4 linked regions of the Homo sapiens genome follow. The protein of the gene in region 2 purifies or fractionates together with the protein of the main gene of each other region. This does not show direct contact. Each region holds a gene or a part of one and is shown on either strand. Other genes may lie near its edges.

The links.
Region 1: the proteins of PRPSAP2 (region 2) and FNTB purify together in Homo sapiens (affinity purification with mass spectrometry, with the first as the bait; 2 studies listed by BioGRID). This does not show direct contact.
Region 3: the proteins of PRPSAP2 (region 2) and LZTR1 purify together in Homo sapiens (affinity purification with mass spectrometry; 2 studies listed by BioGRID and IntAct, with this or other methods). This does not show direct contact.
Region 4: the proteins of PRPSAP2 (region 2) and NAPG purify together in Homo sapiens (affinity purification with mass spectrometry; 2 studies listed by BioGRID and IntAct, with this or other methods). This does not show direct contact.

Annotation. Positions count from the first base shown.
Region 1 is NC_000014.9:65,038,353-65,046,035, reverse strand, and holds part of FNTB (protein farnesyltransferase subunit beta), read right to left. Parts: intron 5,247-7,683; coding exon 5,117-5,246; intron 1,726-5,116; coding exon 1,593-1,725; intron 1,349-1,592; exon of another isoform or gene 1,267-1,348; intron 1-1,266. Other genes in the region: CHURC1-FNTB protein, read right to left, coding at 1,593-1,725, 5,117-5,246. UniProt on the Homo sapiens protein: Essential subunit of the farnesyltransferase complex. Catalyzes the transfer of a farnesyl moiety from farnesyl diphosphate to a cysteine at the fourth position from the C-terminus of several proteins having the C-terminal sequence Cys-aliphatic-aliphatic-X.
Region 2 is NC_000017.11:18,909,626-18,917,308, reverse strand, and holds part of PRPSAP2 (phosphoribosyl pyrophosphate synthase-associated protein 2), read right to left. Parts: intron 6,207-7,683; coding exon 6,058-6,206; intron 1-6,057. UniProt on the Homo sapiens protein: Seems to play a negative regulatory role in 5-phosphoribose 1-diphosphate synthesis.
Region 3 is NC_000022.11:20,984,614-20,992,296, reverse strand, and holds part of LZTR1 (leucine-zipper-like transcriptional regulator 1), read right to left. Parts: intron 6,457-7,683; coding exon 6,400-6,456; intron 4,794-6,399; coding exon 4,714-4,793; intron 4,288-4,713; coding exon 4,179-4,287; intron 3,509-4,178; coding exon 3,425-3,508; intron 2,673-3,424; coding exon 2,615-2,672; intron 1,912-2,614; coding exon 1,772-1,911; intron 670-1,771; coding exon 468-669; intron 84-467; coding exon 1-83. UniProt on the Homo sapiens protein: Substrate-specific adapter of a BCR (BTB-CUL3-RBX1) E3 ubiquitin-protein ligase complex that mediates ubiquitination of Ras (K-Ras/KRAS, N-Ras/NRAS and H-Ras/HRAS).
Region 4 is NC_000018.10:10,521,542-10,529,496, reverse strand, and holds the start of NAPG (gamma-soluble NSF attachment protein), read right to left. Parts: upstream 3,471-7,955; 5' UTR 3,395-3,470; coding exon 3,339-3,394; intron 3,051-3,338; exon of another isoform or gene 2,923-3,050; coding exon of another isoform or gene 2,732-2,922; intron 497-2,731; coding exon of another isoform or gene 452-496; intron 1-451. UniProt on the Homo sapiens protein: Required for vesicular transport between the endoplasmic reticulum and the Golgi apparatus.

The sequences.
Region 1 (7,683 bases), on a different chromosome or scaffold from region 2:
GGCCTGGGCAACAAGAGTGAAACTCCGTCTCAAAAAAAAATAATACTAAAATAAAAAATGTTTGACTTGGGGAATTCCTGACTTCCCTACTGGTGGTCAAGGCAGAGACTGTGCAGGCTCCAAAGTCAGTGCACTTGCTGACAGTGCACTTGCTGTGTTCCAAGGGTAAGTGCCTTATATGCCTTAATACTGACACCTAAAGCCCAGTGGGCCCAGGCCGGGAAAATGGGACAGAGGCTCTGCTTACTTTAATTCAGTGTCAGAAATGGTCACAACTCAACAACTCAAAGGAAATTAAGAAACTAAATAATGAGGCTCAGGGCCGGGTGCGGTGGCTCACGCCTATAATCCCAGCACTTTGGGAGGCCGAAGTGGGCGGATCACCTGAGGTAAGGAGTTCAAGAACAGCCTGTCCAACATGGTGAAACCCTGTCTCTACTAAAAATACAAAAATTAGCCAGGTGTGGTGGCACGCGCCTGTAGTCCCAGCTACTCAGGAGGCTGAGGCAGGAGAATTGCTTGAACCTGGGAGGTGGAGGCTGCAGTGAGCCAAGATCGTGCCACTGCACTCCAGCCTGGGAGACAGAGCACGACTCCATCTCGGGGGCGGCGGGGAGGGGGGAAGACGGGGGGTGGGGGGCTCAGAAACAGGAAAAAAAAGTATGGGGAGGGGCAGAAAAGAATCTCATCTTTTACATTTGAGCAGTTACATTATCCAACTAAGTCCGAAGAACAGCTTCTCTTTGGACCCAGGGATCTCATTCCAAAAACAGATCAGCAACCAGCAGGGCCCCATGACTTCCTCTCTCCCACAGGTCTACTCAGAGACACCTGCTCTCACATCAAGTACACCAGAAAGATGGTGCAGGAGTTAGCAGGCAGACTGAGGTTTCAAGAGATAGAGAGAGAATGTTCCCAGACTTTTTGCTCACTAACTACTTCGGTTTTGCGTTCCCATTTGAGACCCCACAGAAACGAACGTGGATTTCTCTACTCCAATGGTGCAGGTGGAACAAACTCCCATTTAGGCTTATTCAATGAATGTAAAATAAAACATTTCTAATAGTGACAACTCTGCAGCCAGTCAGACACGGCGAGTCTCTTCTCCATGGTGTAGGGGCAACCCACCCCTACAACCCACCCCTACACATGGGTTCTGGTTCTCTACCCCTTTACGCAGTTGCCTTTCCTGTTGCTGTTGCAACAGTGACTGTTGCAACACTGAGGGTTTTCAGCTCTGCCCTGCACCCAGAGGAGGTGGCAATCACCACAGAGCCCAGGACAGGAGTGGGCTGCTCCTTCCAGATAACGCAGAAGCAGCGCCCACTTCCTCCCCGCTCCCCGTAGCAATTTCAAGGAAGCTCATTCTGTCGCAGCCAATTTGAAGAAGCAAAGAATGACACTAAACCAATGAAACTAAATCTTACTCTGCATTCGCATGCCCCACGGCATGAGGTTCCACACTGGGCACTCAAAATCCAGGATAGACAGAGCTCATTTCAACCCCTCTAAAAAAGCACGCTGGGCTTCCAGACTTTGTGAGTAGTGGAGGGAAATCATCCAGCCCCAAGTGAACAGCTCCCCAGGCTCACCTTGGGCGTGCAGTGCGCGGTGGAGCAGGGGCAGGAGCCCCGCCTGCCAGAAGGAGTAGCAGCCATCCACCAGCTTGTTGCAGCGGCCCTGAAATCCTCCTTCAAATCGCATCTGCCGGCTTGTCACCCATTGCTGAGGAGACACAGATGGGAAAGGCAGTTGTAGGCTAAAAGAGACAAAATCCAGCCCGACAGAATCTCCAGGAGTCAATCTGTGGGATGGAGGGTTTCCCATCTTGTGGCTTCTTGGCACTCTAGTTTTGGTGCTCTGGTTTTCTTTCCTTCCCTCCCCACACTGCCATAGACACAGAGTGAAGCATTTAAGCCAACGCTGTAGAGGCATCCAGCACTGATCTCTGCTCAATGCCTGGCAGACAACTACCTTTTCCTGGGTTCCAAAGCAGTGCCAGTGCTGAGAAGATAAAGAGGCCAAGCTGGTTTGTAAGGAGACCTTCAAAGTCTCTTAATAAACATGGCTTAAGTTGGAAATTGAAGGCAAGACTACCAGTAGCTCATTTCTCATTACTTCCCTGCTCCGGGGAGTTTATTAAAAGCAGATAAATGGAATTTGGTACTACATTTCTTTTTTTTTTTTTTTTTTTTTTTTTTTTTTTTGAGACGGAGTCTCGCTCTGTCGCCCAGGCCGGACTGCGGACTGCAGTGGCGCAATCTCGGCTCACTGCAAGCTCCGCTTCCCGGGTTCACGCCATTCTCCTGCCTCAGCCTCCCGAGTAGCTGGGACCACAGGCGCCCGCCACCGCGCCCGGCTAATTTTTTGTATTTTTAGTAGAGACGGGGTTTCACCTTGTTAGCCAGGATGGTCTCGATCTCCTGACCTCATGATCCACCCGCCTCGGCCTCCCAAAGTGCTGGGATTACAGGCGTGAGCCACCGTGCCCGGCCTGGTACTACATTTCATCAGATGATCTCAAACTGCTCCTGACTTTTACTTGGCACCTGGGGAAATTTACCCAAGGTCTCTTAGCAAGTCACTAGCAGGCCTGAAAGCAGAAGCCATTCATTCTAATTACCAAATGACAACTCTGCCCAGTCTGTGGCTGATATAAGAAAATCTTTTACTTTGAAGCTGTAAAATAGGTCTTGGTCTTGATGTCACTCAGCGGTCACACACGATACCACCATTCCTTGCTTATCTACAAGTTTTCTAAACACACTCTACTACAAAGATCAAGATAGTCATGGGTTTGGTCCCTCAGAATGAGCAGAACCAACTGGCTGAGCAGATATGACATTTCCATTTCCCTCCCTAGACCACCTAGGCCGTTCCAGCCACGGACTTACAGAGCTGCCTCACTCAACTGAAAGGGTACAGGGGAGGGTACTTCCTGTTTCTAGAGTCTTACTAGGTAAAGGTCCTGAAAGGAGCCACTGGGACCCTTGATGGAAGTGGGGGCCAGCCCTCCCCTAAAAGCTGTTGTTTAGATTATTCCCTCTTCAAGGCAACACCTGCCCATAGAGAGTCACAGTCACAAATGCTTAAAAGAGACAGAAAACACTGTACTGCAGGTTCAGGTACTAATATATCCTCGGTTGATCTTAAATGAACCAGGGCTTCCAGCATGTAATGGAAGTGGGCTAAGCATTACTCAGGCAGAGAGAAAGCAGGCGCTGCAGTGGGAGTCGGTTCCTCATTTCTACTTACCGCAGGGCTTAAGTGTTTTTAAGCAGACTAATTTACTTTTTCCAGTGCCTAAGCCCATGGATTTGTTCTGTTTCCTTGGGCTATAGGAATTCATACTTCAGATATGGGTCCTACTTCTCCCAAAGCAAATGGAAGGGAGTAGTCTGGATTAGAGCAGGGGTCCCTAACCCCCAGACCATGCCAGGCTGCACAGCAGGACATGAGTGGTGGGTGAGCCAGTGAAGCTTAATCTGTATTTACAGCTGCTCCTCACTGCTCCCATTACTGCCTGAGCTCCACTTCCTGACAGATCAGCAGCAGCATTAGATTCTCATAGGAGCGCAAACCCTACTGTGAACCGTGTATGCCAGGCTTCTAGGTTGCACGCTCTACATGAGAGTCTAATGCCTGATGATCTGTCACTGTCTCCCATCACCCCCAAATGGGACTGTCTAGTTGAAAGAAAACAAGCTCAGGGCTCTCACTGATTCTACATTATGGTGAGTTGTATAATTATTTCATTATATATTACAGTGTAATAATAGAAATAAAGTACACAATAAATGTAATGTACTTGAATCATCCTGAAGCCATCACCCCCCGTCCCACCCCCAACCCCAGGTCCACGGAAAAATTATCTCCCACAAAACTGGTCCCTTGTGCCAAAAAGATTATTACTGTGGGTTAGAGGGACACTAACATTTATTAAGTACCTACTATGTGCCAGGCTGTTTATAAATGTTCTCTCCTTTAACCTTAAAAAAATAAGGATTGTTATCCCTACCTTATAAAAGAAAAAAATATCAAGCTAAAAGAGATTAGACAATTTGCCCAAGGACTCATGTCTCAAATGTAGTAGGGACAGGGTTCAAATCTAGAACACTGTCTTTATAACTGAGGCACTCCCTAATCACATTCCTTATCTCTGCCTGGGAGATGGGACTTTTTTGTTTCATGCCTTATTGGTGTTCAGATTTTAAAACATCTGAGAAACTCTTAAGTTCAGCATACAAAGTTGGCTGTTTCAGCATGAGCCTTCAAGCCTTCATGAATCTTTAAAAAGACTACACCGGGGGAGGCTTTCTGAAGGTGGAGGCAAGACACTGCTGGTTACATGTCTACAGGGTACAACAGAAACTCTCCAGGAAGCTCACGATGGGCCGCATAACGGGAGGCTGGCATCTGAACTCAGGGAGAGGAGGTGCATGTCAGTTGCAGCTGGTTTGCTTTGACGTCATGGTCAGGGGGTACATGCTCCCCAAATGACATGACGGGGAATGCCTTCTCCCTGGTGGCCGTGGAGGTGTGTGTGTTTGTGCACCCACTGATCATTTAACTACAATCTAGTGACTCCCTGAAGCTGACTGCTTTCTGAGTTTCTTCTGAATACTGGCCAGGAGCGTGGGGTCCAGACATAAATGTTGGGCTGCCTTCTCAATGCAATTAGCCAGCTCTGCCTAAACAACTCATTTAAATGTAGGTACTAAATGTTTACACAGTGCAGCAGGTAATAAAAGTTTGGTTTCGAAATGCTGCAAAGCTCTTCTTGTAACTTTTCCTCTTAGGAGGTTCTTTCTATAACACACGATAACCTCTAATTCTACGAAACTGAAGTATAAGGAAGGTACTCTGCTCACACCAGATGTCTGCAGCACACAGTCTATGTAGTCTACACACTATGTAAAAAGCTCTAAGCAGGAAGACAGAAAGGCAGAAGGGGGAGCCAAGACAGAGCAGCTGCTCACTCCTTCCTCTGTGTTGGAACAGAGCTAACTCTCTTAGCCCTTCCCATAGCCAAACTCTCCTGAAGCCTGCATGTCTGAGTACAATCACATCACCATGACCTGGGGCCTGAGAGGGGGATGGCTCAAAAGATACTTACTAATAAGCTCTTCAAGTTCAAGGAACGTTCCCTCTTGAGGATTACCAGCGCGGCCAGGCCACAGAAGGTATAGCCACCATGGGCTTCCATCCCTGGTACCCCGCCAATGCCACCTTCCCAGTTCTGACACCTAAGAAGAGATTGAGAAAAGCAGAATGAGTGGCCAGTGAGTGGACGTACACAAGACCAGGACCATCCTAGGTGGCAGAGAAAAAGTTCACTCAGATTAAGGTGTGAACCATCACAACTATGAATGAAAAGATGCCAACTAATTAACTTTTGGAAATGTCTTTTCAAAAAAAAAAAAAAAAAAAAGCTGGGCCTGGTGGCACCCATGTGTAATCCCAGCTGCTCAGGAGACTAAGGCAAGAAGATCACTTGAGGCGAGGAGTTCGAGGCTGCAGTGAGCTATGATCACACCATTGTGCTCCAGCCCGGGTGAAAGAGTGAGACTAGGTCTCCAAAAAATGTAAGTATAATAAAAACTGTAAAATGTTAAAAACCCAGACACTTAGAAACAGCCTACTTGTGTAAGAAACATAATAATTCAAATTATTACTCTTTGGGAAAAAGTTATAAAATCATACATATACATATATGTACATATATACACATATATATACATATATATATATACACACATATATATACATATATATACATATATATATAGTGATAACCATCAAGTTAAAATAAAATTAAAGAGTGATTGTTGATTCTAGTGATCTTTTATTTTTGAAACAGGGTCTTAACTCTGTTACCTAGGTTGACTGCAGATCATGGCTCACTGCAGCCTCAACCTCCTGGACTCAGGCAATCCTCCCACCTCAGCCTCCTGAGTAGCTGGGACTATGGGCGTGCCCCACCATACCCGGACCATTTTTTGTATTTTTTGTAGAGATGGGGCATTGCCATGTTACCCAGGCTGGTCTTAAATTTCTGGCCTCAAGGAATCCTCCCACCCCAGCATCCCAAAGCGTTGGGATGACAGGCATGGGCCACCGCACTTGGCCTCTGGTGATCTTTGAGTACAGGTCTACTAGTAATATTTTTCCTTTTTGTTTTTCTATTTGTTCAAAAAGTTTTTATAATGAACCTGTATACTATTAAAAAATAAACGTTATTTTTAAAAATTATAATTAGGCCAGGTGGTGATGGCTTCTTAAACAGCCTGCAGAACCATGAGCCAAATAAACCTCTTTTCTTTCTAAGTTACCCAGCCTCAGGTATTCCTTTATACTGACACAAAATGGACTAACACAAGAAGGACAAGAAATAACTGACTTAGTAGAATAGAGAAACCTTTCCTACCCAAAGGATAGGGATGGGAGAGGGGCAACAAAAAGCAAGGTGATCTGCTCCAATAAAAGGCTCCAGGATTAGAGATACAGGGAACCTCCACAAAGTGGAATGCGTCTGAACCAAGTTTGTTGGTTGCAAACTTATATAAGAATCAGACCTTTAAGTCCCCTACTCAAATCCAGCAGAAGATGGGAAGTTTCAGAGGTTTAATCAAAAGGATCTGAGTTCCAGAATATCCAACAAGCTAAGAGGAGGAGGGAGCACTGTACCAAATGTGATTACGTGAGAGTCAGTAATCTCAACACAATACCCCCAGCCCCATTCCTCTGTGTATTTCACACAAGGCTGCCAGTTTCATACCCCAAGCAGGAATTTAGAAGATTCCTCTCTGAGGGAACTGATAAGCCCAAGGGAAAAACCCTACAGACACTGCTTTGAGAATTCCCCAATGAATGGCTTGATCCTGCCCACTCTCGCAGAGCTCCCCAGCAGCTTTTCAGTGCTGGATCCTTAAATATGAACAGACAGCTGTAGAGTACCAGACATTTGACCACAGTCTCTACTATGAAAGAGGAGACCAAAACAAACAAAAATAAATTGGAGGAAATAAGACAGGGAGCAAAAGAAAACTTTTTAAAGTTGTATCTTTAGATAAAATATTATATGAAGTAAGACTATTGAGAGGACAAAATATCCCCAGAAAAGAACAAGAGAGTAGATAAAAAAGTAGTCAGGAAGTAAAAGTAGTCAGGGAGGAAAACTAAAAATAGGATTACAAAAATAAAAACAAGAGGATTAGAAGATAAATACTAAGAGAATCTCTCAAAGTATAAGAAGAAGGATTAAGAGATGGAAACGAACCATGCAATGAAATATTTTTATTTTTATTTATTTATTTTTGAGACAGAGTCTCGCTCTGATGCCGAGGCTGGAGTACAGTGGCACAATCTTGGCTCACTGCAACCTCCGCCTCCTGGGTTCAAGTGATTCTCCTGCCTCAGCCTCCTGAGTACGTGGGATTACAGGTGCATGCCACCACGCCCGGCTAATTTTTGTATTTTTAGTAAAGACAGGGTTTCACCATGTTGGTCAGGCTGGTTTCGAACTCCTGACCTCGTGATCTGCCTGCCTTGGCCTCCCAAAGTGCTGGGATTACAGGTATGAGCCACTGCACCCGGCAGTATTATTTTTATTTATTTATTTATTTTGAGATGGAGTCTCACACTGTCACCTGGGCTGGAGTGCAATGGTGCGATCTCGGCTCA
Region 2 (7,683 bases):
AGTCACATTTTTGTGACTCACAAAAGAGTTTAATCACACACATCTGTATGTATGTGATTAAACTGCCTTTCCTCTTCCTCATCTGTCTTTTGCCAGTTTAGTCCATATGCCACCAAACACTGAATCTATGAGGGCAGGGGGTTAGGGTTCTTCCCCAACAACTCGAAGGTGGCATTTTTTTTTTTAATTAAGAAGATGTTATTAAGGCATGGGGAAGTTTCTTAAACACAAAAACAAATTCATGCATAACTCTACCACCCCAACCCAACTACATTCATTCTTCCTATTTCCTCCTGGTCTTTGCATAGACAAAGAGAGTGCTGTGGTCTGAAGATGGTGTCCTCTCAAAATGCTATGTTGGAACTTAATACCCAATGTGATAGTATTAACAGTGGGGCCTTTGGGAAATGATTAAGGCTCAAGGCCTCTGCCTTCATGAACAGGATTAGTGCCCTTACAGAGAGCTGCCTTGCTCCTTCCACCATCTGAGGACACAGTAACAAGGTGCCACCTCAGGAGCAGAGTGAGCCCTCATCAGACACCAATCTGCTGGTGCCTTGATCCAGGACTTCCCAGTCTCCAGAACTGTGAGCAATGAATTTCTGTTGTTTATAAATTACCCAGTCTGGCCGGGTGCAGTGGCTCATGCCTGTAATTCCAGTACTTTGGGAGGCTGAGGTGGACGGATCACCTGAAGTCAGGGGTTCGCGACCAGCCTGACCATCATGGAGAAACTCTGTCTCTACTAAAAATACAAAAATTAGCCAGTCGTGGTGGTGCGCGCCTGTAATCCCAGCTACTCAGGAGGCTGAGGCAGGAGAATCGCTTGAACCCGGGAGGTGGAGGTGGAAGTTGCGGTGAGCCAAGATCGTGTCATTGCACTCCAGCCTGGGCAACAAGAGCGAAATTCCGTCTCAAAAAAAAAAAAAAAATACCAAGTCTAAGGTATTTTGTTATAGTAGCCTTAACAAACTAAGACAGAAATTGGTACTGAGAAGTGAGTTGCTGCTGTATTAAATACCCACCAATGCAGGAGTGGCTTTGGAACTGGGTAATGGGCAGAGGCTGGAAGAGGAAAAGGCTAGAAAAAGACTGTATTGCTATGTACAGACCGTAAAGGGGAGCTCTGGTGAGAGTTCTGCTTTGGTTTGGATGTAGTTTGTCTCCACTAAAACTTATGTTAAAAATTTGGGCCAGGCGCAGTGGCTCACGCCTGTAATCCCAGCACTTTGGGAGGCCGAGGTAGGCAGATTGCCTGAGCTCAGGAGTTCAACCAGCCTGGGCAACAAGGTGAAACCCCATCTCTACTAAAATACAAAAAATTAGCCGGGTGTGGTGGCATGCACCTGTAGTCCCAGCTACTCGGGAGGCTGAGGCAGGAGAACTGCTTGAACCCAGGAGGTGGAGCTTGCAGTGAGCCAAAATCGTACCACTGCACTCCAGCCTGGGCGACAGAGCAAGACTCCGTCTCAAAAAAAAAAAAAAATTGATCCCCAGTGTGCGCTATTGAGAGGTGGGGCCTAGTGGGAGATGTTTGGGTCACAGAGGCAGATCCTTCATGAATGGATTAATGCCTTCCTATGGGGGTGAGTGAGTTCTTGCTCTCAGGGCACTTAGTTCCCATGAGAACAGGTTGTTATAAAAATGAGTTTGGCTTCCCAGGCTCTCTCGTTTCCTCTCTTGCCATGTGATTTCTCTGCACCCGCCTGCTCACTTTTCTTCTCCACCATGTTTCAACCTAGTGTGTGGCCCTCACCAGAAACTGCCAGATGTGATGCTATGCTCTTTAACTTACCAGCCCGAAGAACTGTGAGCTAAATAAAGTGTCTTCTTTATAGAATACCCAGTCTTATATAGTCTGTTATAGCAACACAAAACAGACTAAGACAGGCTCAGAAGAAAACAGCTGTAAAGAAAGCCTCAATCTTCTTAGAAATGATCTAAGTGGTCATGATCACAATGCTAGTAGAAAAACAGACAGTAGGCTGGTCATGGTGGCTCACACCTGTAATTTCAGCACTTTGGGAGGCTGAGGTGGAAGGATCGCTTTGAGCCCAAGAGTTCAAAACCAACCTGGGCAACATGGCAAAACTCCATCTCTACATAAAATACAAAAATTAGCCAGACATGGTGGCACATGCCTGCAGTCCCAGCTATTTGGGAGGCTGAGGTGGGAGGATCGATTGAGCCCAGGAGGTCAAGGCTGCTGTGAGCTGTGATCACACCACTGCACTCCAGCCTGAGCAAGAGAGTAAAACACTGTCTCAAAAAAAAAAAAAAAAAGGTCGGGTGCAGTGGTTCATGTCTGTAACCCCAGCACTTTGGGAGGCTGAGGCAGGCGGACCACTTGAGTTCAGGAGTTTTGAGACCAACCTGGCCAACATGGTGGAATGCCATCTCTATTAAAAATACAAAAATGAGCCAGGTGTGGTGGTGTGCACCTGTAGTGCTAGCTACTCAGGAGGCCGAGGCATGAGAATTGCTTGAACCCGGGAGCTGGAGGTTGCAGTGAGCCGAGATTGCACCACTGCATTCCAGCCTGGGTGACAGAGTGAGACTCCATCTCAAAAAAAAAAAAAGGGCAGTGAAATAGAATCTTTGGCAAAAGAGGGTGCATGGCTGCTCTTGACTGCTTATACTAAAATCCAAGAAGATGAATTAAAGATGAGATTTATCATCAAAGGGGAGGTAGAACTTAAATATTTGGAAAATTATCAGCCTGGCCATCTTGTAAAGAATGTAAAAGCAAGGCTGGATGCAATGGCTCAGGCCTATAAGCCCAAGAGTTTGGGAGGCCAAGGAGGGAGGATTGCTTGAGCCCAAGAGTTTGTGACCAACCTAGGCAACAAAGCAAGACCCCGTCTCTACCAAAAAAAAAAAAAAAATTAGCCAGGCCTGGTGCACACATCTATAGTCCCAGCTACTTGGGAGGCTGAGGTAGGAGAATGGCTTGGGCCCGGGAGGTGGAGGCTGCAGTGAGATCTGATCGCACCACTGTACTCCAGCCTGGAAGACAGATCAAGACTCTGTCTCAAAAAAAAAAAAAAAAAAAAAAAAAAGCAAAAACATGTTCAGGACAGAACTCCAAGTGTGTAGCCAAGCAAACTTTTCTTTTTTCTTTTTTTTTTTGAGATGGTGTCTCACTCTGTTGCCATGCTGGAGTACGGTGGCACAGTCTTGGATCTCAGCTCACTGCAACCTCCAACTCCCTGGTTCAAGTGATTCTCCTGCCTTAGCCTCCCGAGTAGTTGGGATTTAAGGCACGCACCACCATGCCCAGCTAATTTTTGTATTTTTTGTAGAGACGGGGTTTCATCATGTTGGCCAGGCTGGTCTTGATCTCCTGACCTCGTGATCCACCTGCCTCGGCCTCCCAAAGTGCTGGGATTATAGGTGTGAGCCGCCGCGCCCAGCCACCAAGCAAACATTTGATAAGGAGATTAGTATGGATAGAAAGAAGCCAGACGGCCAGGAGTGGTGGCTCACACCTGTAAGCACTTTGGGAGGTTAAGGCGGGTGGATCACTTGAGCTCAGGAGTTCAAGACCAGCCTGGGCAACATGGTAAAACTTTGTCTCTACAAAAAATACAAAAATTAGCCAGGTGCGGTGGCAAGTGCTTGTAGTTCCATCTACTCATGAGGCTGAAGTGGGAGGACTGCTTGGGCCCAGGAGGTGAGACTGCAATGAGCCATGATCGCACAACTGCACTCCAGCCTGGGTGACAGAGTGAGACCTTGTCTCAAAAAAAAAAAAAAAAAAAAAAAAAGAACCAGACGCTATTCATCAAGACAGTGACTCAATGACCCCAAAGGCATTTCTGAGATCTTTGTGACTGCCCATCTCATCATAAGCCTAGAATGCCAGGGTCTTGGGGGCAGAACGATTTCAAGGCTCCACTTCCCACATTCCAGAATACTCCTTACCCACTCCAGCTATAGCTCAAGCAGGTCCAACTATAGCTCGGGCCACCCCTCTGGAAGGCACAGGCAACAAACCACAGTGGTGTCCGTGCAGGGCCATCTCCACAGTGCACAGAGTGAATGAGCTGTGGGGGCACATCTACCTCTACCCAGACTTCAAAGGATGCCCCAAAGAGTGCCAGGGCCCAAGCAGAGAACTGTCACAAGGGCAGGGCCACCAGAGAGACCCCACTAGGGCAATGCCCAGTGGAGTTGTGGGGCAAGACCACCCCAAGACCCAAGACTGGTAGAACCACTAGAGTGCAACTCCAGCCTGAGAGATGCAGGCATGAGAATCCAGTGACTGAGAGCTGCTGCATGGGCTGCTCCCAGCAAAGCTGTGGGAGTGGGGCCATCCAGAGCTTTGCAAGACCAACCCCTGCCCCAGTTTTTGTGGAAGGCGGGGCTTTGAGTCAACTTAAGCCTTAAGATTTAATGTTGTTTGTCTGGTTGGGTTTTAGACTTGGTCAGGACCTGTCACTCCTTTCTTTCTTCCTACTTCTCCCTTTTGGTCTCGAACTCCTGGCCTCAAGCAACCCTCCCACCTTGGCTACCCAAAACGCTGGGACTACAAGCGTGAACCACCACACTGGGCCTCACTTCTCCTTTTTGGAATGGGAATGTCTATCCAATGTCTGTCCCACCATTGCATTTTGGAAGCATACAACCTGTTTGATTTCACAGGCTCACAGCCGGAGAGAAACGTGCGTCAGAGTGAATCCCAGAGCTGGAGTCTTACCCATATTTGATTTAGATGATATTTAGATGGGACTTTGGACTTCAGACTTTTGAGGTGATGCTGAAATTAAGTTAAGACTTACCCGGAGTTAACATTTTGGGGGCTATTAGGATAGAATGAATGTATTTTGCACGTAAGATGAACATGAATTTTGAGGGGCCGGGGCAAAATGCTATGGTCTGAATTTTTGTGTCCTTCCAAATTCATGCTGGAACCCACTGTGGTGGTATTAAGAGGTAGGGCTTTTAGGTGACTAGTTTGTTAGGACTCTGCTCTACGAAGGGGGTCAGTGCCCTTGTCAGAGAGGCTTGAGGGAGTCTTCCACCTTTCTCCACCACATGAGGATGCAGCAAGAAGGTACCATCTACGAGGAACAGGCCCTCGACAGACACCAAATCTGCTGGCGCCTTTATCTTTTTTTTTTTCTGAGAAGGAGTTTCACTCTTGTTGCCCAGGCTGGAGTGCAATGGCGCGATCTCGGCTCACCACAACCTCTGTCTCCCGGGTTCAAGCGATTCTCCTGCCTCAGCCTCCCAAGGAGCTGGGATTACAGGCATACGCCACCACACTTGGCTAATTTTGTATTTTTAGTAGAGAGGGGGTTTCTCCATGTGGATCAGGCTGGTCTCGAACTCCTGACCTCAGGTGATTCACCCGCCTCGGCCTCCCAAAGTGTTGGGATTACAGGCGTGAGCCACCGTGCCCGGCCCATCACGGGGTCAGTGCTGGCGCCTTTATCTTGACCTTCACAGCCTCTAGAACTGTGAGCAATAAATTTGTTGTTTATATTACCCAGTCTAAGGTATTTCATCACAGCAGCCTGAACTAAGACAAATAGGTATACAATCTTATATTCTGCCTTGTTCATATATATTCCATATATTTTTCTCGTTTCCAGATAGTCTTGATTATTTCAAAGGGCTGCATAATTAGCTGTACTGACACAGTATAATTTACCAAGCCCTACACTCTGGTAAACCATTTAAACCTTTCTAATATTTTGCATTAAAAACAACATCACAGTCAATAACTTTGTATATAAAAAGCTTTTTGCTTATGTTAAACTACACTCTAGTATATACTGCTGAATGAATGAATGGACTTCCCTGAAGCATTGCAACTGTCTCAATAGTCCAAACATTTTCACAGGTCTTGCAAAGAAGGACAGACTGCTTCTAAACGGCCTTACAATTTACAAGGTAATCAGAAATGCATTCGCTACTATCTGGCCAAGAAAGGTGTTAATGAGTTTTTGCCAACTAAAAAAAAACGAAGAATGAGGAAAAAAACCACACAGACAACAGTGTAGTCAGCCTTAAAATCAGAGGAAAGTGGGAAAGAGGCAGCAGCACACTTACTGGGGATCTCCAGGCTGGGGTGGATGGCAGCCACACTTCTGACCATGGGTGGGGAATGCCGTCCATCCACCAAGTCCGACTCGGCATCCTGCGCCTCTCCATGAATCACTGCAATTCCCAGGCGCAGGCGCTCAGCAAAAGACTGTGCCCTGAGGGAAAACACCAGACACAAGCTCAAAACTCATGCAGCCCTTGGTTCTGCTAATGCCTAGGGGACAAAACATTAAGAGAACATAAGTAGAATGTTGTCTCCCAAAGGACTAAAGAAAAGAGAGAATAAAACAGCCTTAGACTCTTAGAAACCAGGACTAACTGTAGAGACCCCACATGCCAAACACTTCCCTCTGCAGCAGCACCAAAGAAGGGCAGCAGCCTGGCCTGGTCTGCAAGCCACTGGCCGGGAGAGCCTGACTGAGTGAAGGAACCTCCGCTCAGCTCTGTCTCACCTAAAGCTGCTAATTCTACCTGCCTGCCTACCTACCAGTGAGAACCAACTACATGGGGCAAAGGGCATAAAATGCTCACCAAAGTATTAAGCACAAATTTCTTAATAGTTTTAGGGAGGTAAAACTGAGATATGAGAAACTGTGCATATCTAAAGTATATAATTTCATGAGCTCTGAAGGCTGTATGTGCCCATATAAGCATTAGCACAATCAAGATAAGGAACGTCATCACCACAAGCATCTCCTTATGCCCCTTAGTGATTTTTCACTAAGTGTTGCCCCAGGCAACAGCTGATCTGCTTTCTGTCACTATAGTTTCACCTATCTAGAATTTCACGTAAGTGAAATCATAAAGTTGCCTTTTTTTGTCTGATTTTTTTTTGAGATGGAGTCTTGCTCTGTCGCCCAGACTGAAGTGTGGTGGCAGGATTTCTCAGTTCACTGCAACCTCTGCCTCCCGGGTTCAAGCGATTCTCCTGCCTCAGCCTCTCAAATAGCCAGAACTACAGTCATGCACCACCACATCTGGCTAACTTTTTTGTATTTTTAGTACAGATGGGGTTTTACCATGTTAGCCAGACTGGTCTCGAACTCCTGACCTGAAATGATCCACCCACCTCGACCTCCCAAAGTGCTGGGATTACAGGTGTGAGCCACTTGCGCCTGGCCATTTTGTCTTATTTTACGCAGCACATGTTTTGGAGATTCATCCATGGAATAACATATCAATAGTTCATTCCCTTTCATTGCTGAGTAATATTCTGCTGGGTGAATATATCACAGTGTATCCATTTATGTATTGCTGAGCTTTCCGGTTGTTTCTAGTTTTTGGCTGTCACAAAGCTGCTGTGAACATTCATACACAGATCTCTGTATGGGCACATGCTTTCTTTCCTTCTTTCTTTCTTTTTCTTTTGAGACAGAGTCTCACTCTGTTGCTCAGGCTGGAGTGCAGTGGTGTGAACCTCCACCTCCCAGATTCAAGCTATTCTCCTGCCTCAACCTCCCAAGTAGCTGGGATTATAGGCACGTGCCACCACGCCTGGCTAATTTTTGTATTTTTTGTAGAGACGGGGTTTTGTCATGTTGGCCAGGCTGGTCTTCAACTCCTGACCTCAGATGATCTGCCCACCGTGGCCTCCCAAAGTGCTGGAATTACGTGTCCAGCCACATGCTTTCT
Region 3 (7,683 bases), on a different chromosome or scaffold from region 2:
TTGAAGCCAACCCGCTCCTCATAGGTCAGGGTGGGCACCTCCTCGGAAGCACAGGCTCGCTCGGGCACTTCAGCCCCACCAACCTGAAGAGGGGAGACACATGGGCATGAGACCAGTTGGCAAGGGCCAGGTAGGTGCCCAGAGACCCCCACCATCCTGGCCTTGAGAGTGGGTTCTGAAAGAAGGAAGAGCTGCATGGCCGTGGGCTTCCCAGGAAAGGTCTGCAGCACAGCAGCCCCATGCAGCCATGATGGGGTGTGAAGCGTTAACTACCTGCAGGCTGTGGGGTGAAGCTGGGGCTGGAGGCCGGGGCAGGTGTCCAGGGCTGAGGCCCAGGTGTCCTGGCCTTGCTCCTGGTAGCTGTCTGGAACCCCAGGGGGCCCCAAAGCTGTGAGGAGCTGGGTGGGAGCAGGGTAGGAGCTACTGGTGTCCAGCTGGCAGGTCAGGACACCCCTGGGCACCCTCACCTCGCTGTCGGAGCTGGGCTGGACGACCTCCCAGGTCTGGAAGTCCACGTCATAGCAGTGCAGCTCGTTGGGCAGCGTGTTGTCGGCCGCACCCCCAAACACATAGAGGTGGCGGTCAAAGGCCACCATGGTATGCCCGTAGCGCCGCTGCGGGGGTGGTGGGGAGCCCCGGAGCAGGTGTTCAGTTGGGATGCGTGTCCACCTGGGGGTACACAACAGTGAATCAATGCTGGGACAGGGGCTCCTGCTCACCCTCGGGGCCTCCCCACAGCAGGCCTTCACTGGGAGGTCCCCCTGCATCCCTTACGGTGACTAGCCCAGGGTCCAGAGGGAGGGCCTAGACACCTGCGCTGAGCACCTCTCACCCCATCCAGCACGGGCACCAGCCCTGCCTGGCTCCATGTGGCCCACCGCAGGGTCCTGCCAGAGCTCCCCCCTCTCCCCATGGAGCAGGCAGCAGTGATGGGCAGGAGGGTGGCATCTGACCCGCCCAGGCAGTCCTGCTCTCTGGGGAGTAAAGTTGTGCAGAGACCATTGCAGGTCACTGTGTTCACGCTGCCCAGTCAGAGCATCCCCACAGCTGAGTCCCCATCCTGGGAGCTGCCTGTACCCCACATCCTGATGCTGCCCCAGCACCTTCCACCTCCCAGGCTTCCCAGTACCTCCCAGCAAGTCCTCTCTTTTGCTAAGTTAGCTGAAGACTTCAGAACAGATCCTGGCCTGGCAGGGCTATGCCATCTGGCTCCATGCTGAGCCCCAGGCCCTTGACAATTTCCCTCATCCTGGGGCTCCCTGCCCTTCCTCCCACGCACCCGTGGCCTCCAGGGAAGCTCCCAAGTCCCTTCCCAAACCCCCTGTACCTGCAGCTCACACTCCTTGTGCCCTCTCCTGCAGCCCCATTGCAGGGATCAAGGGCTGGCCAGCAGCCAGGGGCAGCATGGGCCAGACCTCTCAGGACCTGCAGGCCCCTCTGGTCTTCTGCCATTATTTGAGATCTATGCAGGCCACGTCTGTTACTGGTGGCACTGACCAAGCTATTCACGAGGAAGGGGACGTCCTTCACGTTCAGAGGGAGGCCTAGCCAGGGGCCTCCTCGCCAGGCCTTATCTTGCTAAGCTGTAGCCATATCCTGGGGACCTGCCAGGGGCACCGCACATCCCTGCTCCGGGCTGTAACCTCCTGCTGTTTGCAGAGCTCACAAGGATGGTTACCATGGCCACCAGGTGCAAGAGGCGTTCTTCATATTCAGAAGGATTCGAGGGAACTGACCGTCCTCCCTCCACCCCACTGGCCAGAGTACTCACGTCTTGTCCTTGAATTCAAACTGGAAGAGGTTGTTGGTTATTTTGGCTCCGCTTTGCCCAGAGAATACAAACATCTTGTCCCGGCACACAGCCACGGGGAAGTTGCAGCAAGATGGGGGGATCTCGCCACTCTGGGCCACCTGCAGGGGGAGAGGACAGCTCAGCCCCGGCCTCACAGGGCCCGCTCACATTTCACCACACTCGAGACTGCTGAGATGGGACTGCTTTTATTCTTGAAACTTCCCCAGATGAGGATTCACAGATTCCTTTGTCTTGGAACAGCTCATAGCCCTGTCTCATCCACTTCACGGGGCCCAGTTGTGAACAGCTGGGGTTAAAATCGTCAGGGTTAAATCATCAGGGGCTAAACTCATGTTTTTCATGCCCAGAAGACTGAAAAACAATTTTTTTTAATGAATAAATAAATAAATTCCATGTTTCTAAAGGGGAAAGCAAGCCCAGGGGGAGCTCCAGGGAGCAGGACACTGGATAGCAGACGGCCCTCACTGCACTGAAATAAAGGGTGCGTTAAAGCAAAACCACATCCTCACACACGTGGCACTCTGCCCATCCAAAGCACCAAACCTCGAATCACTGTGCAGCCACAGTGAGGAACTGGTCGTGAAGGCCCGCAGGTCACCAGGGAGGAGAGCGAGGCTCAGGTCGAGGCTGGGCTTTGCAAGGGGAAGAAAGCAGCCTCGACCCCCAGCCTGGCTCCCCCTGCCTCCCACCTCCCTCCACCTGCACCCTGTCTCCCCATGCCCCTCACCTCCTCCACCTGCGCCCTGGCTCCCCGTGCCCCTCACCTCCTCTACCTGCGCCCTGGCTCCCCACGCCCCTCACCTCCTCCCAGCAGGTGAGCTCTCGGTCCTGGAGGCCAATTGTCCACATGTCATTCAACCTGTATTAGGACAGACCAGTGAGGACCCCTTGGGTCTGGTGGTCAGGGTGGGCCTAGTCCTGGCTGGAAGGGATGGCTGCAGGGAGGAGCCCCACCCCCACACAGGGTAGGAGACTTGTGCGGCCATGAGGCGGGAACTTCTGTGTGGGGTGGCAGCCACTGCCTCAAATCCCTGCTGTGCCAGGCCCCCTGCCCGGCCCAGACAGAACAAGTACTCTCATGCATGACATCAGGGCAGTGTGGCAGTGCCAGCTCCTCACTCAGTGTCCCTCCTGGGTGGGGAGAGGACACAGATATCCCAGATGCCACCATCACTGCATCGTTAGGAGTTTCTATGATGCTGAAGTTTTGGGAAACCAGCATATGCTACTTTTGTGATCAGAAAAAGAGAGCAAAGCCAACTTTCTAAAATAAGGAGGAAAAGGCCTTTGGCCTGGGCAAGAACCAGGGCTGGGCCTGAGCCTGGGCACCGCCCACCCGCCCACCAACTCAGCTCCGCAGGGCAACTCCTGGCTGAGGATCCTCATCCAAGCTACTCTGGTAGCCACGGGGCTCCACCCAGTGGCCCTCACCTCCATCTGTCCATCCTCCTCTTTCCCCATCCCCCTCCCAAGAAACCCCCAGACAGAGTGGCACTCAAAATCCACCAGGCACTCAAAATCCTCCCAGCCTAAGCCCTCAAATGCCAGGACGGCCTGCTCCGGGTCTCAGTGCTGTCGGAGGTGGGGTGCACAGGCCGGACCACCACCCACCTGGCGTTGCCGTCATAGCCAGCAAAGATCCACAGCTTGTCACTGTACACCGTGGCCCCATGGGCTGACCTAGCGACTGGCAACCTGGAGTGTGAGGGAAGAGGGGAGGGAGTGAGGCCGCCCAGCACAGACCTGAGCCACCCAGCCCCATGTGGTCAGTGCAGGGGCCACAGCCAGGCTGCATGGCTACATCCACCCGACACTGGGGCTTCAGGACCTCCACAAGGCACTAGGAATAAACAACAGCCCCAGAGGCCGACTAGTGGCTTGAAGAGGAATTCAGACAGCCACAGAGGCACAGAACCTTCTCCTAGGTGCCCCCAAAATATCAAAGGGGGTGCTCAAAAAGCGGGACCCCAGAAGCGCCATCAGCAGTACATTGGATCTTATTGAACATTTTTTTGTGACAAGGTCTTGTTCTGTCTCCCAGGCTGGAGTGCAGTGGGGCACACATGGTTCACTGCAGCCTTGAAGTCATGGGCTCAAGTGATCTTCCCACCTCGGCTTCCCAAAGTACTAGGACTACAGGCATGCGCCACCACGCCTGGTCCATTTGGGTCTCTTCTGAAAGGAGGGAGTCTAAGGGCTGGGAGCAGGCCATGCATAGCTGCACCGGGGGATATTCCACCAATCCCAAGCTCCCTGCTATTGCGTGCCCTCAGGGTCCTCATCTGGGAGGCAAAAGGGGGCAGATCCCAGGTCCAATGCCACCCAGGACCCAGCCTGTCCCAAATGTTTCTGCAAAGTTTCTCACCGTCCTTCAATTTTCCACTCCGTCCACTGGCCAGTTGCAAACTTGTATTCAAAGAGGTCGTTTTTATTCTTCAAGTTAGAATTGGAATAAATGTCCCCAGTGTAACCCCCTGAGTAAAGAGAGTGAGAAACTGTCAAACCCAAAGGGCAGTCTTGGAGATTTCAAACCCTGGAAGGTGGAGCAGAATCTGGCCCCCCTGAAAATGCATAAGCCAGGACTCCTTCCACAAGCCCCGGAACGACCTGCTGCCTGTCTGCCTCTGTGCTGGGCTCTGGGGACACAGAGATGAGCAGGACACTGTTCCCAGCCACAGCTCAGTAACACAGAAAGACACCCAACCCTGTGAGCTCAGGGCCGTTAGGGCAAGGGGTCCCAGATCCAGCGCAGAATTCCGAAGACTGGCAGACAAAGCCACGGGTGGAGAGAGAGCCCCTGCTGTACACAGCACGAGCACAAATGCCCCAGGCCTGCAGAAGGGCAGGGTGTCTGTGGGCCTCGGGGCGACACAGCCCCTGGGAGGCAAGAGGCTGCTTACCAAAGACAAACATGCTGCTCCCATAGACGACGGCCGAGTGGTGGTAACGGGGGGCCGGTGGGGTCCCAGTGGTAAAGGCCCTGGGGTGGGCACAGGGGTGGTGAGAGTCAGCGGGGGTCACCCATGAGGTCCACACCCCCACAGGGTGGCCCTGCATCCCTGTGCTGCCTTTCTTTTTTCTTTTTTTTTTTTTTTGAGACGGAGTCTCTCTCTGTCGTCCCGGCTGGAGTGCAGTGGCACGATCCCGGCTCAACCTCCACCTCCTGGGTTCAAGCGATTGTCCTGCCTCAGCCTCCTGAGTAGCTGGGATTACAGGCACCCACCATCATGCCCAGCTAATTTTTTGTATTTTTGTAGAGACGGGGTTTCACCATGTTGGCCAGGCTGGTCTTGAAGTTCTGACCTCAGGTGATCCGCCCACCTCAGCCTCCCAAAGTGCTGGGATTACAGGCGTGAGCCACCGCGCCCAGCTACGTTTCACTTTTGTATTTTGAAGGTGATACCTGTCTCATCATAGAAACTTAAAAAAAAAAAATCACCAATAAGGAAAAAACAAAATAGGCACTAAAGCTCATGCAAATTCCCATTACCAGAAAACCTCTGGCAACACCTTGAGGTCTTCCCTGCACACCTCTCCTACGCATACTTAGGCTTCCATGAAATTTTTTAAAATGGAATCAAGTGGCAGATATTTTGTAAATTGCTTATTCCACTCACAGAATGTGACCAGGTCCTCATGCTACTCCAGGACCATCCACACTCCTGCTCTCAGCAGCAGTGCAGCATCTTACAGCACGGGGTCCATCAATTTCATTTAATACCTATCTATCTAACCATCATCTATCTATCTACCTATCATCTATCAATCATCTAATCTATATAATCTATATATCCATCATCTATCCACCTATCATCTACCTATATAATCTATCCATCATCTATCTGTCATCTATCATCTATCTACCTATCATCTATCATCTATTGTCTGTCATCTATCTACCCATCATCTATCTAATCTACCTACCTATCATCTACCTATCATCTATCTATCGATCTGTCATCTATCATCTATCCACTATCTATCTATCTGTCATCTATCTGTCTAATCTACCTATCATCTATCTATCATCTCTCTTTGTCTTTCTATCATCTATCTATCTTTCTTTCTATCTATCTATCTATCTATCTATCTATCTATCTATCTATCATCTGTCTATCTATCTTCCTAGACAGGGTCTCACTTTGTTGCCCAGCTGGTCTTGAACTCCTAGCTTTTTTCTGAGTTTTATACTTAAGCAATTTTTGACAAATAATTGTGAAGCCTTCAGAATGATTTTTTAAATTAATTTGTAACTACTAGCCATCTTACAAAATCAAGTGTGAGAGAAAAGACATAGCAACTTCTGTACCCATACTAGCATCAGCCTCGAGGTAGAGGTGGACAGCCCAGAAGGGTGCCGCCCTGTGTGCCCAGCTTGGCAGCTGCAGGTGCGGGGTGGTTACTTGATCTCCTCAGCCTGACAGGGCGGCTCTGGATGTGGCATCCCTGAGGCCGTGGTTATCTCCTCCTGGAAGCTTCTTTCTAGCTTCCCATGATGAGAGAGACTCTGCTAGCAACTGGGACCCAGCACTGTGCCACTGTGTTCTAGGAGGAAAGGCAGGGCCCTGGAGCACGGGGCCACCCACCTGCACCAGGAGCAGTCTTTCACATCGAACCGCAGGAGGTCATTGAGCATGGTCTTCCTGAAAGGCAGCCGGAAGAGAGGGTGGCATTAGCCAGGTCTACTCTGCAGTGACCCCAGAGATGGGCACTGCATGTAGCCAGGGTAGAGTAGGGGGCTGTTGTGGGCTGGGTCACTAACACAGCCAGGCAACCAGCTGATGCCCAAGAACAAGAGTGGTGACCACAAAGGAGGCTCCCCAACTGATATGGGCACCAGGGCTGCCACACAGGCAGACACCAGCCTGCCTGGGGTCAGGACCAAAGCATGAATGTGGCCACCAGGAGCCCAACCAGCAGCTGACATGAAGGCATGAAATGGCCCAAAGGCCAGAGTCACCCTCACACCTCACCCTAGCCTCCAGAACCCCTATTCACACGTCCCAATCCCCTTCCTCTGCAGCTGTACCCTGCAATGCAAGTGCTTGCCCGTGCCTCAGGAGAGGCCCTTTGCTTCTCTCTGATCTTCCTGCCACTTCTTAAAAAAAAGAAATAGAGACAATGGGCTGGGCTCGGTGGCTCACGCCTGTAATCCCAGCACTTTGGGAAGCCTAGGCGGGCGGATCACTTGAGGTCAGGAGATTGAGACCAGCCTGGCCAACATGGTGAAACCCCATCTCTACTAAAAATACAAAAAAATTAGCCTGGCATGGTGGCAGGCGCCTGTAATCCCAGCTACTCGGGAGGCTGCGGCAGAATCGCTTGAACCCGGGAGGCAGAGGTTGCAGTGAGCCAAGATGGCGCCACTGAACACCAGCCTGGGTGACAGAGCAAGACTCCATCTCAAAAAAAAAAAAAAAAAAATAGAAACGAAGTCTTGCTTTCCTGCCCAGGCTCGTCTTGAATGCCTGGCCTCAAGTGATCTTCCCACCTCAGCCTCCCAAAGTGCTGGGATTACAGGTGTGAGCCACTGCACCTGGCCCCTGCCATTTCTTTGTTGCAAAAGCCATACAATCAAATAGAAAACAAATTCACTGGCCATTGCACCACCTAACACTACCAGCTGGCATATCACTACCCAGCCCTTGGGAAGAAGGGCAAACTGACAGGAGCCCAGTGCCCCGTCATGCCCAGCCTGTGCTGGGTGCCCCCTGAACGGTCTCACTTAGTCTGCACCAGTGGGTGCTCTCTCACCTCCATTTCACAGATGGCAACAAAGCCTAGTGGCTCAAAGGCTGTGTCTGAGGCCATGCAGCCAGGAAGCCAGGAGCCTAGAAGCTGGTGGTGATTGTGATACCGCCCCCCCCCCC
Region 4 (7,955 bases), on a different chromosome or scaffold from region 2:
CCGGCATGAGCCACTGTACCCAGCCAGCTACAGTAACATTTTTTGCCAATTAAATTTATTCAACATATTTAGCATCTAAAACTTGTTTGTGTATATAGTGTTACAAGATTCAAATTAAAATAAGCAATTTTTCAAGCTTACCAAGAATTTCACTGTTCAGAAAAATAATATCCTTAAATTGTGGTGTGTCTACTCAAATCTACAAAATTGAGGAAATATGCAATATGCAAAATGCTAACCCTCTGTTCCTATCCCATAACAAACATTACATTCTGTATATTAACATAATTTTTTTAATCCCACTAAAAACAAGATACAATCACTCCGTCACCTAATGTGCTATACACGGAAAGACCCAGAGAGTTTAAAACTGGGCAAACCATCCCAAGTCACATGAACACCACTAATAAGGAAGAAAGATATACAGCTAATTTGGGTTTAGCAGCCATACCTGTTAGTCCTTTTGACCTTTTTCTCCAAAGAATCAATAAGGAAACTGACCAATTTCCACAGAAAAAAAGAAAACAGCAAAATTACCATCTGTGTGGGGATCAATTTACAAAATTACTCAGCAATATTGAACTACGTCATCATTAGAAAATGGAGAAAAATCAAATATCTCCTAAGCTCCTGGCCCATTTTTCCTACCACCCACTGAGTAACTCTGTCTAGCAGCATTTCAAACTAACACTTCAAGCCTGAACTCCACACCTCCCCGCCCCACCTCCCTGCCCCAGACCTACCCACCAATCACATCCATTAATCTATATCCCCTATCTTGGCTGAAGGCCTCTCCCACTCGTCTCCCAAGTTAGAAACCTAGGAGTTAACTCTTCATCTCTACATGCAGGCACCTCATTAAAGCATGTCAACCTTACTGACAAACATCACCCAGTCCTACCCCTGTACTGTTATTTGAATTCAGGCCATCACCACCTCTCCCCTGAAGTCGACAACCCACTAACATGTCTGGCAGTACCTTCATGGGAGAGTCACCTTTCCTCCTCTTCCATTCCCCACATCCTGAGCATATTACCTTTTCCTTGCTTCCTATCTCTACCATACCACACTGAATACTTCTATTCTAGCACTGAACATCCTATTTTTAGTCCTCTGTTAACTTGTCTGCCCACCTGTGAATTCTAAGCTCTTGAAGAAGGGACCACTTTTGGTTACTCCAGTATCCTCTGTGGCTGGTACAGGTACACAGAGACAACTTTGTAAATGTTCGTTTACTGAATATGTCAAAGTCCATTCTCCACACTGCTGCCACATTTCTTTTTCTTTTCCTTTTTATTTATTTATTTTTTTGATACAGAGTCTTGCTCTGTCTCCCAGGCTGGAATGCAGTGGCGCGATCTCCGCTCACTGCAACCTCCGCCTCTAGGGCTCAAGGGATTCTCCTGCCTCAGCCTCCTGAGCAATTGGGATTACAGGTGCGCGCCACCACAGCCGGCTAATTTTTGTATTTTTAGTAGAGACAGGGTTTCACCATGTTGGCCAGGCTGGTCTCGAACTCCTGACCTCAAGTGATCCACCCGCCTCAGCCTCCCAAAGTGCTGGGATTACAGGCATGAGCGACAGGGCCCAGCCTGCTGCCACATTTCTTTCACCAAAAGCAAATCTAACCGAGTCCACTGGTTGGATGCCTACAATAGCCATGTGAGAAGCTGTCCCTTCACAGTCTGGCCCCAACTCTTTTTCACTCCAGCTCGTCCCCTGGCACTGTGACTACACTACATTCACTGTTCCCAGAGCACATTTTCAGGCCCGCGTATAATACATACTACAGGTTGCGCACAGAATCTCTTTCACAAGATTTTCCCTCCGTCTAAAACATTCCGTATTTTTCAAGCTCTGCTCACAAATCATCTCCTCCTCAAATTTTCTCAGGCAGAATAAACTTCTCCCTCTGGGTTACCTATGCACAGTTAATACAGCTTTTTTGTGGTCCCTATTCCACACACTATTCTTATTACAAATTTTGCGTTTGCTCCCACTAGAAAGCAGAATGTTGTGGGAACCTCCTGCACCAGGAGAGCCCCAGCACCTTACACGCTGACTGCCTCGAGTCATGTGATAGAGCTTGAGTTTTTCCACTGTTTGAAAACTGGCTCTGCGATCTTTCACCTGTGCAGTTGGGGGCAAGTCGTTATGAGGCTTCCCTGAGTCTCATTTCCTCTTACGAAAAATTAGAATCTCTATTTGGAAAGTTATTGTGAAGATCTCAGCTTATGAAATTATGTATGTGAAGCACCCACCACAGAGCACAATGCTGACTTTTTCTTTTCTTTTTTTTTTTTTTTTTTGAGACGGAGTCTCGCTCTGTGGCCCAGGCTGGAGTGCAGTGGCGCGATCTCGGCTCACTGCAAGCTCTGCCTTCCGGGTTCAGGCCATTCTCCTGCCTCAGGCTCCCGAGTAGCTGGGACTACAGGCGCCCGCCACCACGCCCGGCTAATTTTTTGTATTTTTAGTAGAGACGGTTTTCACCGTGTTAGCCAGGATGGTCTGGATCTTCTGACCTTGTGATCCGCCCGCCTCGGCCTCCCAAAGTGCTGGGATTGCAGACGTGAGCCACCGCGCCCGGCCCACAATGCTGACTTTCTATTAACTGTAACTGCCAGATAAAAATGCACTGGAGTAATGAAACGGGGGGAAGAGGCTGCCAAAAGGATGAATTAAGGATTATCAGTTCAGTCCCACAAACATTTGCAGGGTGCCTACTACGTACTGTACCAGAGGTGGCAGGACATACACATCAAAGGACGAACGAAGCACAGTCCCTGCCCACAGGGACAGTAAAATGCCAGATGACAAAGGTTCACCGAGGAGTTTTTGGGGTAAACCTATGGTCCCCTCCACACAGGGGGCTCTTCTAGGGCGGTGGTTCTCAACAGAGCGATGTTGTTCCCCAGATGACATTTTGGGTTGCCACAAATGGGGAAGAGATGCGACCGGCACCCAGCAGGTAGAGGCCAAGGATGCTGCTAACGAGCCTCCGATGCACAGACAGCCCCCACCACAATCTTCAGGAGCAGAGCGCCCAAGTAGAGAAGCCCTCGCCCCGCAGCACTGCGCCGAGTCCCCGCCCACACCGGCTCTGGGGAGCGGACTTCCGGCGGGGTGGACCCACGGCGCTTCCCGAGGCGCCGCAGAGCTGACCCCGACCCCGGGAGTGTGACCCAGAGGACACCGAGCCCCGGCAGCCCTGCGGGCACCAGCGCGCCGAGGCCCCTCAGCCCTGAGCCCTCCCTCCCGCCCCCCCCGGGTGCTAAGGCCGCGCCAGTGAGAGACGGACCCGGCGTCTACACACAGGCCCCCGGAAGGTTCTCACTCACTATTTCTCTGCTTTGGCGAGGTGTTCCAGCCCCTCGTTTATCTTCTGAGCCGCCATCTCCACAGTCAGGTCTCTGACGTGGAGAGAGGGTGACCCTGCCTCTTCCTCCGGCGCCAAGAATCCGCCCAAATAGGCGTGGGAACGCCGAGGAGGAAGCTGGTGCAGCGCGACAGTCGAGCGGCTACGGAGGGCCGGAGGGCCCAAGCCGCTGCGACGAAGCGGGGCTGGGAGCCTGCCGGTGCGCCCCGCAAAGAGACATTGCGCAGGCGCAGCGCGTCAAGGCTGGCCCCACCTAGGGCATCTAGCGCAGGCGCGGTGAGATACTGATGGGGCGTATTCTTTCATTCAATATTTGCAAAGCACCTAATATGTGTCAGGCACTATTTTAGATGCGGGAAGATCAGCAGACAAAAACTCCCGCCCTCTTGAAGTCTTGCTTTTTCATTAATGTGAAACTGCTGTGGATCCTGTTTGTAGGGTTAATTGGCTTTATAATTTATTACATCTGAAGTTTCTCTGTATGACAGATAGAATAGTATTCTTCTATCCATTCTGCCTTTTGGGTATTAATTGTATGTCAGTCAAGAAACGAAACAGACTTGTAAACCCTGATTACTGTCAAATAATCCGCGCCCAACCCAAATAATCGCTCTAATATTTCAAGCCGTGATAAGTGCTCTAAATGGGAAGTTGAGGGATCTAAAGTCGCGTACAGTGGTCTGGTAAAAATAGTAACCAGTAATACAGTTGGCTTCATTCATAATTCATGGTGATTTCAATATCCACATGGATGATTCCTGCAATGACTATACAGCCTCTCAGCTTCCAACCTCCTGTGATCTTTCCCACACTAGCGCAGCCACACATTCCTGGGATCACACCCTTGACCTTACTCATAACTGTGTACCCTCCGTAGTGTCAGTTTCAAACAGCTCACTTTACTTCCCCTTTCCATTCCAGCTCATACCTCCTAGTGCTAGTAATTACTTAACCTTCACCAGATTCCTCACCTTTCCCTATCCCTCTGCTCTTACACGTCCTTCTTTTCCCAGCATAAATTCATGTCCCATCATTTTAGTGCGTATACTCTCAACGGCCTTGGCTCCCTCTCCCTCCTTTCTCCAAGCCAGGAAAAACCCCAGCTCTCCACCTACTCTGGAACTGCTCTTGAGCAAGTGAATTTGACTGGAAAAAAACAAACGAGGATGCTAACATTACTCATTTTAATGATCATAAACATTAAGCCGACCTTTGGTGCTGCTGAGCAACTCTCCTATGTTTCCATGGTCAAATCACTCACCCACTCACTTGGAGGGCTGTTCACACCTTCCTTCTCAAAACTCCTACACAATCTCTGCTTGCCTGCCAACTCTCACTTATTGTTGAATATGAAATAACTATTCGAAGAGTTCTTCCCTTTGGCCTCACCACACAATCGATCGATCTTCCTGCATCTATTTGCCAATCAATATTTTGCATTTTTTCTAGTGCCAACAGGTGAACTGGCCTTGGATTTTTTTCTCTATCCTCACTTTCTTATTTAGTACCCACACACAAGACCCCTCTTCATTTGGTTGTCTAGCCTGGGCTTCCTTTATAGGAAGGCAGCAGAATTTCAAGAGAGTGAAAGTGGAAACTTCAGGCTTCGTAAGGCCTGGACTCCCACTGCACATTACTTCTGCCACATTTTATTGATGAAAACATGTCATAAGGCAAGTTCAGATTCAAGAGGTAGGAAAATAGAGGAGTGTAAAATACTTTGGCCATGACTTCCAATTCACCACAACTCTGGGATGACTGATTAAATATAAAAGGACTGTTACCAGTGGAAAGCCTTATGTTTTCAAGTGAGTTTAGATTTATTAACCACCCAATACCATCACCCTCTAAAACCATTGAAAGTGCCCAGAAAGTTTTCTAAGCCTATAACCTCCTCCACATTCTCCCTTATTTATTCATTCATTATTGAATTATTGTTTACTGAATGCCCACTCTGCACAAGACATTAAGCCTACACACCTAGGACCCAATTGTTGAGCAAGAGATATAATGCCTGCCCTCATTGCATTCATGATCTATGAGAGGATACAATATTTAACTTAATTTTACTTTGGCATCAACAAAGAAAGAATGGGAAAAAAACCCCACGATAGTGATATAGCAGTTATTAAGAAATACTTTTTAGGCAGATAGTAAGGGTAAATGTTCTCAGTGGAAATTTTCCTGTTTTAAGAAACAACCCCTGAACCATCTCTTTTCTAACAGAAAAGGCAGCTTGAAGAGCCAGGCCCGCAAGCTTTGATATGCAAATGTCAGTCCTTAGAAACTGAGTTCACTCAACATGGTGATTCCGCCATCTCTTCCTTGTCATCAGGTGTACCAAGTGTCATGGCCACCTCCAGATAACACCATGTGTTCAGAACATCACGGTGACCTGTATTTGCATATTAAAGGGCTAAGGTGGGAGGGCCAGGTTTTTCGAGAGCTATGTAAATGACACACCTGGTCAAACCAATCCCCTGGGCCCTATGCAAACCAGACACCACCTCCTCCAGGATCCCAATATAAGCAACCACTTTTCCACTGCACACTGGGTTTTCTCTTTGTTCAAATCCTCCCTACCTCTGTCTCTGTATGGGGGAGGTGTTTTCTTCTTCCTTCCTTCTTTCTTGCCTATTAAACTTTTCACTCCTTAAAACCACTCCACGTGTCCGTGTTGTTAATCCTATCAGCACGAGACCAACAACCCTGGTGTTCCTCCATTCGTTGGAGCTATATCAATAGCCATGGGCATTCAAGGGTTCTATGTTTCAAAGGACCCTTGACCAGGGAAGCCGTGGTAAGTATGTGCTAACATGCATTCATAGTAAAGGGGAGAAGAAGAGAGAGAATGGGCACAGTAAAGGTGTAACACAAATGCCCCCACTTTCTTCCCCTCCCCTTCTCTTCCTGCAATAACATTGAGGTGGGAGTTGAGCAAGGGGAATTTAAACTGAGAAGTCAGCTTAGAAGAACTGAGAATGGAAAGCATGGACCAAATGATGATAGACTAAGACGTGTAGTTTCCCAAGCTAGAATCGATAGTGTGACCCCAGGCCTTGTTGACCCATAAACGTAATTCTTGTTATCACAGCAGCTACCACCAGAACCTCAGCAAAAGTTGTCTTTGTGACTTCAACTTACCTCTTGCCTCCTCTCCTAAGGCTCTTTAGACGCTCATGTCCTCCCTCACCTACCCCGTCAACATACAGACTTGCTGGCTGCTGGCCCAAGTGATTCCATCTGAGCCAATCCTCTCCTCTAGTTCTAGAAACTCTTTTTCTTTATCCTGCCTCAATAAAAATGTGCATTCCTGAGTGATCTACTTGTTTTGGATGTGACTAAAATGATTCACATCAAAGTGTGAATGAGGCTTAAAATAGAGCTTGCAAACCCCATTCCTTCTCTCATGGTGGGCTTAAGTCTCTGAGAGTTCTTTAAGCCTGCATCCCCAGGTTCCTTGTCTACACAAACCTGCTTCCTTCCCCTAGCCTAGTCTGCTGCCAGGAAGCAAAATCCTTGGACCTACCTCCCACAGCTGAATGTTCCAGTCAAATAAAAGGTCTTTGTCATTTCTTGGAGAGAGGGTTTGATGGGTCAAATGAGCTCTATTTCAAATCAGGAATCATAAATAAGGAAACATAAGAGCTCCTATATCGCTAAGTTTTCTTTGTTTGTTTAATTGCTAGTAGCCTGACTGTGTAATTTTACCCTTTTCCCCCACAAATATACTGTTATGTTATACAAGAGATACACTTCTGAGACCCAGCCCAAGAGGTTAGCCATGAATCATAAAATCATTTCTCTGGGAAAATATATTCTGAGTTATAAATAACGAATTTACAAAAAACCTTTGGAACAAATTCTGCTATCATTTGACAGTTCCTTTCATCAGAATAGGATTTTAGAAGATTGTTCTTGGCTTTTTTTCTGATAAAACTAATAGAAGCCATTATGATCTGTATTTTTTTTTCTGGTTAAGTGTTAATGAATACATTGACTTTTAAAAATCACCACTGAATCTCTATGAGATTAATATGGAGAATTCGTTCTCCAGATTCCTGTGTCCAATGCCTTCTTAGCAGCTCCACCTAGACATCTAAAATGTCATACATAATCTGTTCAAATCTGAGCTCCTGATGCTCCCATACCTGCTCTCCCTTCAGGCTCAGCCATGCTGGGTTCATGGCAGCTTCACCCTCTCCTTGCCCAAACACTTGGAGTCATGCTCCTCTGCTCTTTCTGTCGCACAACACATGCAATCTGTAGGAAATTCTGTCGACTTTGCCTCCAAAAAGTGCCCAGAGGCAACCACGTCTCCTCATCTCCCTGTCCACAGCCACCGCGTAGTCTGTTAGTTGCCATCGTCTGTGACTGCACTCACCATCTGTGTTCAGAACACAGTGCAGTGCGAATTCCAGAGCAGAACTCAGTCAATTTTGGCTGAAAGTCCTGTGTCATTACGGAAGAAGAGGAAGAAGCATTTGGACACTTGGAAGGTGTTTTCTCTCAAGTCTGGCCATGGCCCTTCTTCAAGGTAATTTCTTTTCTTTCTTTCTTTCTTTCTTTTTTAAATTAT